Homo sapiens: one gene and its partners. The protein of the gene in region 2 purifies or fractionates together with the protein of the main gene of each other region. This does not show direct contact. Each region holds a gene or a part of one and is shown on either strand. Other genes may lie near its edges.

What was found.
Region 1: the proteins of SPATA33 (region 2) and PPP3CB purify together in Homo sapiens (affinity purification with mass spectrometry; one large-scale study listed by BioGRID and IntAct). This does not show direct contact.
Region 3: the proteins of SPATA33 (region 2) and PPP3CA purify together in Homo sapiens (affinity purification with mass spectrometry; one large-scale study listed by BioGRID and IntAct). This does not show direct contact.

Annotation. Positions count from the first base shown.
Region 1 is NC_000010.11:73,485,883-73,489,537, reverse strand, and holds part of PPP3CB (serine/threonine-protein phosphatase 2B catalytic subunit beta isoform), read left to right. Parts: intron 1-3,655. UniProt on the Homo sapiens protein: Calcium-dependent, calmodulin-stimulated protein phosphatase which plays an essential role in the transduction of intracellular Ca(2+)-mediated signals.
Region 2 is NC_000016.10:89,664,246-89,667,900, forward strand, and holds part of SPATA33 (spermatogenesis-associated protein 33), read left to right. Parts: intron 1-3,655. UniProt on the Homo sapiens protein: Plays an important role in sperm motility and male fertility. Required for sperm midpiece flexibility and for the localization of sperm calcineurin to the mitochondria. Promotes mitophagy as well as acts as an autophagy mediator in male germline cells.
Region 3 is NC_000004.12:101,060,946-101,064,600, reverse strand, and holds part of PPP3CA (protein phosphatase 3 catalytic subunit alpha), read left to right. Parts: intron 1-1,243; coding exon 1,244-1,369; intron 1,370-3,439; coding exon 3,440-3,514; intron 3,515-3,655. UniProt on the Homo sapiens protein: Calcium-dependent, calmodulin-stimulated protein phosphatase which plays an essential role in the transduction of intracellular Ca(2+)-mediated signals. Many of the substrates contain a PxIxIT motif and/or a LxVP motif.

The DNA of each region.
Region 1 (3,655 bases), on a different chromosome or scaffold from region 2:
TATTATAGGGTTTTTGGAGAATTAATAGAGACCGTGCATATAAAGTAGGTACCACAGTTCCTGGCCTGGCACATGGTAAGTACTCAACCAATGGTAACCATCACCATTATTATTATTATTATTATTATTGAAGGTTTTAAAGTAGAATAGTGACCCAGTATCTTGTTTTTTGATGGCTAATTCTGGCCATATTGTGTGCAACAAATTATTGGAGGGCAAGAAGCTTAAAGCAGGTTGTCTAATTAGAAGATTAATGGAGTAGTCCAAGTGAGGGATGACCAAGGCATGAAAAACTAGATACGACACAAATTCCTACTAATATTAGAAGGTAAGTATATTGGATGAGTGATTGAGTATGGAAGTGAAATAGGTGAGCAACAGTTTTTTAGGAAACAATAATCAGAATAATTTTGCTTTAGGGCTAGATTAAATTGGGCAATTGTAGTTAGATGCAAAGATTGGAATGATATGTAAAAGACTGAGAATGGTTAAATTGAGAAGAACCTTGAAAATAAGATCCAAAGTTTTCTTTTTCTTTATTCTTTAGTCATTAAGAAACTACCCCAAGTTTTTGAGTAGGTTAATTTACTACTTTGTTCAGTCAAAGAGGAAGAAGAGATTTTTCTAGTAAATGATAAGAACTTGAACTAGTATTGCAACAGTGGAGATTTAAGAAAATTGAATTTGAAGAATCAATAGGACTTAGAGTTCAGAAAGAGAACAATGACATTAAGTGTGAGTGATAGAGAATGGTGATACCTTAACAGGTGTAAGCCAGGAAGGGGAGCCAATTTTGAGGGAAAGGTATATTTAAAAACCACCACAAATTAAAAGAGACCCAATGGATACCTTGAAATTTTGAAGACAATGCTGTTGGATTTATTGAATCTTTCCTTAAAGCATGTGGCCAATCCATACTTCTACTCCTGGCAAGCAAATGGTTATATCATTCTTCATGATGAGGCTTTTTTTTTTTTTTTTTTTTAACCCTCAAGACAGGATCTTGCTCTGTCACCCAGGCTGTAGTGCAGCGCCATGATCATAGCTCACTGCAGGTTCAAACTTCTGGGCTCAAGCGATCCCCCAACTCAGCCTCCCAAGTAGCTGGGACTACAGGCACACACCACCATGCCTGGCTAATTTTGTTTATTTTTTATGGAGACAGAGGTCTCACTATGTTGCCCAGATTGGTCTCAAATTCCTGGGCTCCAGTGACTGTCCTGCCTTGGCCTCCCAAAGTGCTGCAGTTACAGGTGTGAGCCACCACGCCCAGCCATGATCAGCCTTTTGATGTCTCCTTTTGTCAAAAGAAAATTGTCCTTGTGTTGGTATAAAGACATATGCTACAGGAGCAGCATTCTGAAGACTTCAATTTCAACTATGGCTCTACTTCTTACTAGTGAAACCCCTGGAGAAGCAACTTAATGTCTCTGAACCTGTTATCTATCATTTGTGAAATGGGAGATAAAACTTGCCTGACCCTAACCCCAGCACTTTGGGAGGTGGAGGCGGGCGGATCACTTGAGGTCATATGTTCGAGACCAGCCTGGCCAACATGGTGAAACCCCGTCTCTATTAAAAATATACTAATTAGCCGGGTGTGATGGTGGGCGCCTGTAATCCCAGCTACTCGAGAGGCTGAGGTAGGGAGAATCGCTTGAACCTGGGAGGCAGGGGTTGCCATGAGCTGAGATCTCACCATTGCACTCCAACTGGGGCAACAGAGCGAGACTCTGTGGAAAAAAAAAAAACAAAAACTTGCCTGACCAAACTCAAAGGATGTCCCTGGGAATCATGTAGGATTATGTATGTGAAAGTACTTGGTCAACTATGAATAAAACACTATAAATATATTGTCATTGCTACATAAATTAGTGTCGTTAAACAAGTATTTTGGAAACTATAATCATTAATTCTGTAAACATTTCTTAATACCTATGTTTTTCCTGTTTGTTTTTTTTTTTTTTTTTTTTGGTTTTGGTTTTTTTTTGAGATGGAGTCTCACTCTGTTGCCCTGGCTGGAGTACAGTGGCATGATCTCGGCTCACTGCAACCTCTGCCTCCCAGGTTCAAGCAACTCTCCTGCCTCAGCCTCCCAAGTAGCTGGGATTATAGGCATCTGCCACCACGCCCCGCTAATTTTTGTATTTTTAGTAGAGACGGGATTTCGCCATGTTGGCCAGGCTGTTCTCAAACTCCTGACCTCAAGCGATATACCCACCTTGACCTCCCAAAGTACTGGGATTACAGGCATGAGCCACTGCACCTGGCCAGTTCTTAAGTTTTAGATAGGTTTTGATAATGGTGGAACTTAGAATGGATAAGACTTGTGGGCCAGAAACTTGAGCCTATGATGACTAGTTTTCTTTTGAGAGAAAGTCTCACTCTCGCCCAGGCGGGAGTACAGTGGCCCAATCCCGGCTTACTACAACCTCTGCTTCCAAGGTTCAAGCAATTCTCGTGCCTCAGCCTCCCCAGTAGTTAGGATTATAGGAGCCCGACACCATGCCCAGCTAATTTTTGTATTTTTAGTACAGATGGGTTTCACCATGTTGGCCAGGCTGGTCTGAAACTCCTGACCTCAGGTAATCCACCCGCCTTGGCCTCCCAAAATGCTAGGATTACAGATTTAAGCCACGGCACCCAGCCTATGATTAGTTTAATAGATAGCAGGGACAAGGGTAAACTAGCCAGAAGGCATGAATCTCAAAGGAGGAGGCATTTTTTTTCCCTTAGTGGAGAGATGATGTTGGAAGTGCTAATGCGGAGCTAAGAGAATGCTGAAGCCTCCACTGAGATTAGTGGAATGCGGAAAAATGAGCACCATCCACTTTGAAAAAAGAATTTGATAAGTGTTGTCCTTCAGGAGACCCAAGATGTAATTAAACTAGAGAGATGAAGACAGTATTCTGTGTAGAGCTAAAGAAGAGAGAGGCCAAGCGCGGTGGCTCACGCCTGTAATCCCAGCACTTTGGGAGGCTGAGGTGGGTGGATCACCTGAGGTCAGGAGTTCAAGACCAGCCTGACCAACATGGAGAAACCCAGTCTCTACTAAAAATACAAAATTAGCCAGGCGTGGTGGTGCATGCCTGTAATCCCAGCTACTTGGGAGGCTGAGGCAGGAGAATCACTTGAACCTGGGAGGCAGACGTTGCGGTGAGCTGAGATTGCACCATCGCACGCCAGCCTGGGCAACAAGAGCAAAACTCCGTCTCAGAAGAAAAAAAAAAAAAAAAAAAAAACCAGTCTGGCCAACATAGTGAAACCCCATCTCTACTAAAACTACAAAAAATTGGCTGGGCGTGGTGGCTCACGCCTGTAATCCCAGCACTTTGGAAGGCCGAGGCAGGCGGATCACGAGGTTAAGGGTTCGAGTCCAGCCTGGCCAACATGGTGAAACCCCGTCTCTACTAAAAATACAAAGATTAGCCGGGCATGGTGGTGCACGCCTGTAATCCCAGCTGCTCAGGAGGCTGAGGCAGGAGAATCGCTTGAACCTGGGAGGCAGAGGTTGCAGTGAGCTCATGTTGCGCCACTGCATTCTAGCCTGGGCAACAGAGCAAGACTGCATCTGAAAAAAAAAAATACACACACACACACACACACACACACACACACACACACACACAATTAGCCAGGTGTGGTGGTGTGTGCC
Region 2 (3,655 bases):
ATGAGAGGCCAAAGAATATCAGTTGACTCTGGATCAGGGGCTCGGACACGTTGCTGTGGAGGCACACATCTTCCTGGAAGGCGGTTTGGTAACAAGGTGGCAGGACTCAAGACAGCCCACACGATCCCTGCCCCTGGGAAACAGCCATGTGTAACCCTCCCCTCGAGTGTGGGTGGAATGAGGAAGAGGGAGGTGTGTCTCTCCTGCGATTAGCTCACTCATCCATTGAGTTTGACGTCATCAAAATGCGAGATGATCCTGGATGGGCCCGACCTGATCAGGGAAGCCAGACAGTAAAAGTGTCAGAGGCTCTTTAGGGCCCGACCTGATCAGGGAAGCCAGACAGTAAAAGTGTCAGAGGCTCTTTAGGGCCCGACCTGATCAGGGAAGCCAGACAGTAAAAGTGTCAGAGGCTCTTTAGGGCCCGACCTGATCAGGGAAGCCAGACAGTAAAAGTGTCAGAGGCTTTTTAGGGCAGCGAGAAAACGGGAACTTCATTCCTTGAACCGGGAATAAATTCTGCCTCCAACCAGAATGGGCTTAGAAGAGGGTCCTCCAGCTCCTCATGAGAATGCAGTGCAGCCGGCCCCTGGAATTCAGCCTGCGTCCCAGCCACGCTGCACCTGCACCCCTGACGACGAATGCAGTAAGATGATAAGTGGATGTGCTGGTTTCAGCCCTGAAGTTGGTGGTGATTTGTTGTGCAGCAATAGAAGTACACACAATATGTACCAAGAACCTTGAGAAGAGTCACATTTATTCTTTCTGTTTTGTTTCTGAGATGGTCTCACCCAGGCTGGAGTGCAGTGGCACCATCTTGGCTCATTGCACTCTTGACGTTCTGGGCTCAAACGATTCTCCCACCTCAGCTCCCTGAGTAGCTGGGGCCACAGTGCACGCCACCACCCCCAGCTATTTTTTGTAGTTTTTGTAGAGATGCGGTTTTGTCATGTTGCCCAGGCTGGTCTCGAACTCCAGAGGCCAAGCAATCTGCCTGCTTCAGCCTCCCAAGGTGCTGGGATTACAGGCGTGAGCCACCGCACCTGGCCCAAGATTAATATTTCTTTTTTTTTTTGAGATGGAGTCTTGCTCTGTCGCCACCCAGGCTGGACTGCAATGGTGCATCTCTGCTCACTGCAAGCTCCGCCTCCCGGGTTCATGCCATTCTCCTGTCTCAGCCTCCCGCATAGCTGGGACTACAGGTGCCTGCCACCACGCCTGGCTAATTTTTTGTATTTTTTTTTTTTTTAAGTAGAGATGGGGTTTCACTATGTTAACCAGAATGGTCTTAATTTCCTGACCTCGTGATCCGCCCGCATCGGCCTCCCAAGGTGCTGGGATTACAGGCGTGAGCCACTGCGTCTGGCCTAATATTTCTAAATGAAGAAACTATACTTTGAGGAAGATGAAATAAGTCTTGTTTTAGACTAGAAAATTTCAATAGTGTAAATACGTTAACTTCTGTAAAATCAGTCAACACCAAGTCAAAACACAAAAGATCTTTTGGGAATATGAGCAGATTATTCAAAGGTTCATCTAAAGAATAAAAATGAGGCCAAGTGTAGTGATTCACGCCTGTAATCCCGGCACTTTGGAGGCCGAGGCAGGTGGATCACTTGAGGTCAGGAGTTCAAGACCAGCCTGGCCAACATGATGAAAGCCCATCTCTACTAAAAATACAAAAATTAGCTAGGCGTGGTGATGGGTGCCTGTAGTGCCAGCTACTTGGGGAGGCTGGGGCAGGAGAATCACTTGAACCTGGGAGGTAGAGGTTGTAGTGAGCCAAAATTGTGCCACTGCACTCCAGCCTGGGCGACAAGAGTGAGAATCCATCTCAAAATAAATAAATGAATAAAAATGAAAGCAGTAGGAAACATCTGGAAAACCAGAGGCATGAGGGGGTCGGGCCCTCTGATACTCAAGTAGGTTAGAGTAAAAAAAAGCCAGATATGGTGATGTGGGAATATATGGTCCCATAGGTGGGATCTGTGGTTCCAGCTACTCAGTGAGGTCCGAGGATCACTTGGGCCTGGGAGGTTAGGACTGTAGTTTGCTATGATCACATCCACGAATAGCCACTGCGCTCCTTCCTGGGCTACAGAGTGAGACCCTTCTCTAAAAATGGAAGAAAATGGCCGGCACAGTGGTTCATGGCTGCTGTAATCCCAGCGCTTTGGGAGGGTGAAGTGGGAGAATAACTTGAGCCTGAGAGTTCGAGACCAGCCTGGGCAACATGGCAAAACCGTGTCTCTACAAAAAATTTCAAAATTAGGTGGGTGTGGTGGTGTGTAGGGTCCAGCCCCACAGGGTCGGTGGGTTTTCTCCCCATGTGCGGAGATGAGAGAGCGTAGAAATAAAGACACAAGGCAAAGAGATAAAAGACAGCTGGGCCCGGGGGACCACTACCACCAAGCCGTGGAGACCGGTAGTGGCCCCAAATGCCAGGCTGCACTGATATTTATTGGATACAAGACAAAGGGGCAGGGTTAGGAGTGTGAGCCATCTCCAATGATAGGTGAGGTCATGTGGGTCATGTGTCCACTGGACAGGGGGCCCTTCCCTGCCTGGCAGCCAAGGCAGAGAGAGAGGAGACAGAGAGACAGCTTACGCCGTTATTTCAGCATATCAGAGACTTTTAGTACTTTCACTAATTTGCTACTGCTATCTAAAAGGCAGAGCCAGGTGTACAGGATGGAACATGAAGGTGGACTAGGAGCGTGACCACTGAAGCACAGCATCACAGGGAGACGATTAGGCCTCTGGATAACTGCGGGCAAGCCTGACTGATGTCAGGCCCTCCACAAGAGGTGGAGGAGCAGAGTTTTCTCTAAACTCCCCTGGGGAAAGGGAGACTCCCTTTCCTGGTCTGCTAAGTAGTGGGTGTTTTTCCTTGACACTGACGCTACTGCTAGACCATGGTCTGCTTGGCAACGGGCGTCCTACCAGACGCTGGCGTTACCACTAGACCAAGGAGCCCTCTGGTGGCCCTGTCTGGGCATAACAAAAGGCTCACACTCTTGTCTTCTGGTCACTTCTCACCATGTCCCCCCAGCTCCTGTCTCTGTATGACCTGGTTTTTCCTAGGTTATGATTGTAGAGCGAGGATTATTATAATATTGGAATAAAGAGTAATTGCTACAAATTAATTAATGATATTCATATATAATCATGTCTGTGATCTAGATCTAGTATAACTATTCTTATTTTATATATTTTATTACACTGGAACAGCTCGTGCCCTCGGTCTCTTGCCTCGGCACCTGGGTGACTTGCCGCCCACAGTGGTGCGTGCTGGTGGTCCCAGCTACTTGGAAGGCTGAAGTGGGAGGATCATTTGAGCCCAGGAAGTTGAGGCTTCAGTGAGCCATGATCATGCCACAGCATTTCAGCCTGGGCCACAGACCTTCAAGATCCTGTCTCAAAAAGAAAAAGGGATATCGCTCAGTGCTTAGTGCAGCTGTGGGTCATTCGGCAGCTGACACAGATGAGGCTATGTAACGCAGCACTGCAGGCAGAGGGGGAGGCCAAGGCCTGAATACCCCGTCTGACTAGCCTTAGGCAGGCGACTTGGCCTCTCTGCCTCCCCCATCTGGTTAGCCTTGGGCAGTCGAGTTGGCCTCTGTGTCTCCCCTGTTTGACTAGCCTTGGGCAGATG
Region 3 (3,655 bases), on a different chromosome or scaffold from region 2:
TGAGCATCCATTCTGAGTAAAAACAAAAAAGTAAAGAAATGATTACTTTTTCTGTATTTTCAACCCCATAACATAAGCAAGAAAAGATCATATGATATCATATAAAATCTGTTGGTTACTGTCTTCTAATGTAATACAAATTATGCCCTGAATAGATAATAAAAATGAAATCTTGCCAAAGCCTAAGAAGGTATGCTTGAGTATCATATTTAATATTTAAAAGGCTGTCATTCAGAAGCAGAATGACATTAAATATTAAATATGAAATGCATAGCAAAACCATGATCAGTGACTGGTAAAGGCAGGTTTAAATGCAACCTGAGAATTTCCTGCAACTTCAAATTGTCTATCCATAGAATAGGTGACCTCATTAAAACAGGTGACTTTTCCTTTATTGAAAGTACTCACAGAGACATGAAGCATGCAGATTTGTCTTCCTGAGTCATGGATGGACATCTTTTTCAGAAATCAAGGATAGAGTCAGATAGAAGCACATTATTTTATGTGGGATTCAATCCAAACATTTTATTTTATTAAGTCAAGAAAGCAGTCTACTATAGGGTAACTATAGTTAACGATAATAGATTATAATTTCAAATAGCTGGAAGGAGAATATTGAATGTTCCAAATACAACTAAATGATAAATGTTTGATATGGTATTTAATGTATAGCTAATTACCCTGATCTGATTACTGTGCATTATATGTGTCAAAACATCACTATGCACCCCATAATTATGTACAATTATTATATTAATTTAAAAAATAAAGTAAAAATTAAAGCAATCTAACTTAAACTATTTTGTACAACTGTTGGGAGTTCTATTGAAGTTTTACTTTTTAAAAATAAATTCATTCAAATATTTGAGGAGATTATTATGTCAAACTTAGCTGTGCCACTTTTATTAGTGTCATCAGATATCAAATTTTAAGACCAAAGTATTCTTGGCTGAAAGGGGAGCTTGAATCAGTTCCTGACAGACATTGGATTAACTATTTTGTGTAAATATTTTCCAATTTGTTACACAATTACATATTAATTATTCATATATTGTGCAGTTATATATTACCCTGAGTAAGGTTTAAGTCCATAAGTTGTATAAGCATTCTGGGATGCCTAAGGTGTGAGCCTGGATGTTTTGGAACTTCAGTCAAATGGTTGAATTTTCTTGATGAGCTAAAGCCATACATAGAAGCAGAAATATGTTCTGTGTTCCTAACATCCTCTTTTGGTTATTTTTAGCTGCAGTATTGAAGTATGAGAACAATGTTATGAATATCAGGCAATTCAACTGTTCTCCTCATCCATACTGGCTTCCAAATTTCATGGATGTTTTTACTTGGTCCCTTCCATTTGTTGGGGAAAAAGGTATGTTGTGGAATCCTGAGATGTTCTTCTTAAAATAGTTTAGGAAGGAAGGAAAGGAGATTAAACACTCAGAAAGAGAAGAACTTTGGCCCAGCCAATAAAATTCACAAGTTGTACAATGAAAGATGTGATTTGGAAGTGGCAGTGTGTCACTCTGTATCCTATTAACAGGACACAATTGGTGAATGAGGGGGAAGCAAAAAAAAAAACAAAACACAGGAATATTTAGGAAATTTTTACAATCTTATTAGAATAATATAACGCTTTAAAAAATAATGGAAATACAGGTTTACCTGGTTTCAAGTAATGTCTACCCTTTTTCCTTACCCATTTGTACTATAATCCCAAAGGACTATTTAATTTTACAAATTATCTGCCAAATTAAAAGATTAGGATAGCCATGCTCTCCTTACATTTCTGATGTTAATAAATTATTGTACGATAGTGCTTAATGGCTACAATATTTTGAAGAACAACATGTACAACAGCAAAGTAGTTCATCAATAATGTAGGCATTAGCGCATTATAAGGTACAGAACAGGAGACAAATTTACATTTTAGAAAGTTATTTGTTAACTTTCTTCCTACCTTCCTTCTTTCCTCCTTTGTTTTGCTTTCATATGTTGACTTAAACCCCAACAAAAATTTTGGGGAAATGTCTGCACCAATTGTTTTTCATTCAGGAGGCCTAACAGTGATACACGGATTGATTCTCATGTATCTTCTCATACTTTCCATGAGAAGGTGAATGGGCATTGTAAGAAAAATAAATGTTCCTATAAGTATCAGAGTAATGATGTTCTATGAGGAGTATCAGAGAAAAGCTAAATATTTTTCTGAAACCCTAATGGTTGTTTTCCCTTTAAATGCCCTAAAATGATTAAACCAGTCAAGTTATGAGTTGTTGGCAAAGAAGCCTTCCCTTTGAATATCAAAATAATCAAAAGTAAATTTTTAATAATCTCTGATAAATATTCCCAATACTACTCCATATTGCAACTTTCTTGCACTGATCAAATTGGAGTAGTGTCATCTGTTGGCTTCGCTGGAAACAGAAGCAGTGTGGATGCTGACAACTATGGGGCACCTTTTGAACATCCTTTATTTGGGTTGTTTCTATTAATTATTAAAATTTGGGACATTTATTAGAAATTAACATATTAATCTATTGGTACACAAAATCCAGTTTTGATAATTAAACTGAAACTCTGGATCAGTGTTGGCTCTATTGAAGTTTGACTCTCTATCATTCATCTTCAATTCTAGAAGGACATTTTTTTAAATAGCATATTACTTTAAAAAGTAGCTCTCAAAGAAGCAGTAGACAGGCTTCTTTTCACATGCATGGTAGAATCCAATCTAATTTCAAAAAATATTAAATGTAAATAGCATGGTTTATAGTATAAAAATAATGCAGTACTAATTTCCTCTGTACAACACTTTTATGTAATCCTATTGTAATCTATTAAGTAAATTTCTGATTAAACTGCAACTGTTTAATTTTTTAAGCATTTTTGAAAATCAAATTTAATGATATTTCTGTCAATACATTTTTAAAATTAGTATTCTGAAAAATACTTCAAATATATTAGTTTATCAATCAACAGTTTGTATTAAACACAAAACCACATGCCTATAATGGCGTGAAGTTCTCTAGGTGATTAAAAATATAAGAAAAATCATCATTCTTAGTCCCTACTGAACAGAAGTTTGTAATCTGATCTAGATTAAGCCTTATCATTGTGTGACTAATAAAAATTCAAAAAAACTATTTTCTCTTTCATTGATTTGTAGTATATTCACATCCACATATTTGATTTGTCATTGTCTATTGACCTAGAGCTAGTAAATGTTACCATTAGATATCATAAGCATCAGCTAATAGTTTCATAAAGTCTGCATAGAATCACAAAGGCTGTCTTTTATGATCTGGATGTTTACTGAAACTGCTTCTATATACAAACTAAATAAGAAATGTTATTGCTAAGTTTGCTCATTAACAATGCCAGAGTAATAGTTAAGGTTATAACAGAAAACCCTGACTTTTCTTTCTTTGCTTTCTCTCTTTAGTGACTGAGATGCTGGTAAATGTCCTCAACATCTGCTCAGATGATGAACTAGGGTCAGAAGAAGATGGATTTGATGGTAAGAGGCTTGAGCCTTTGTGCTAATGCTATTTGCCAGATAATTACTTAGAGTCTCATTGCTAAATCTAAGAATAAATTTCTAAGATTTGGATTATGTTTAAAACGTAACATTATTGAGAATAAAAGATATGATTTCATT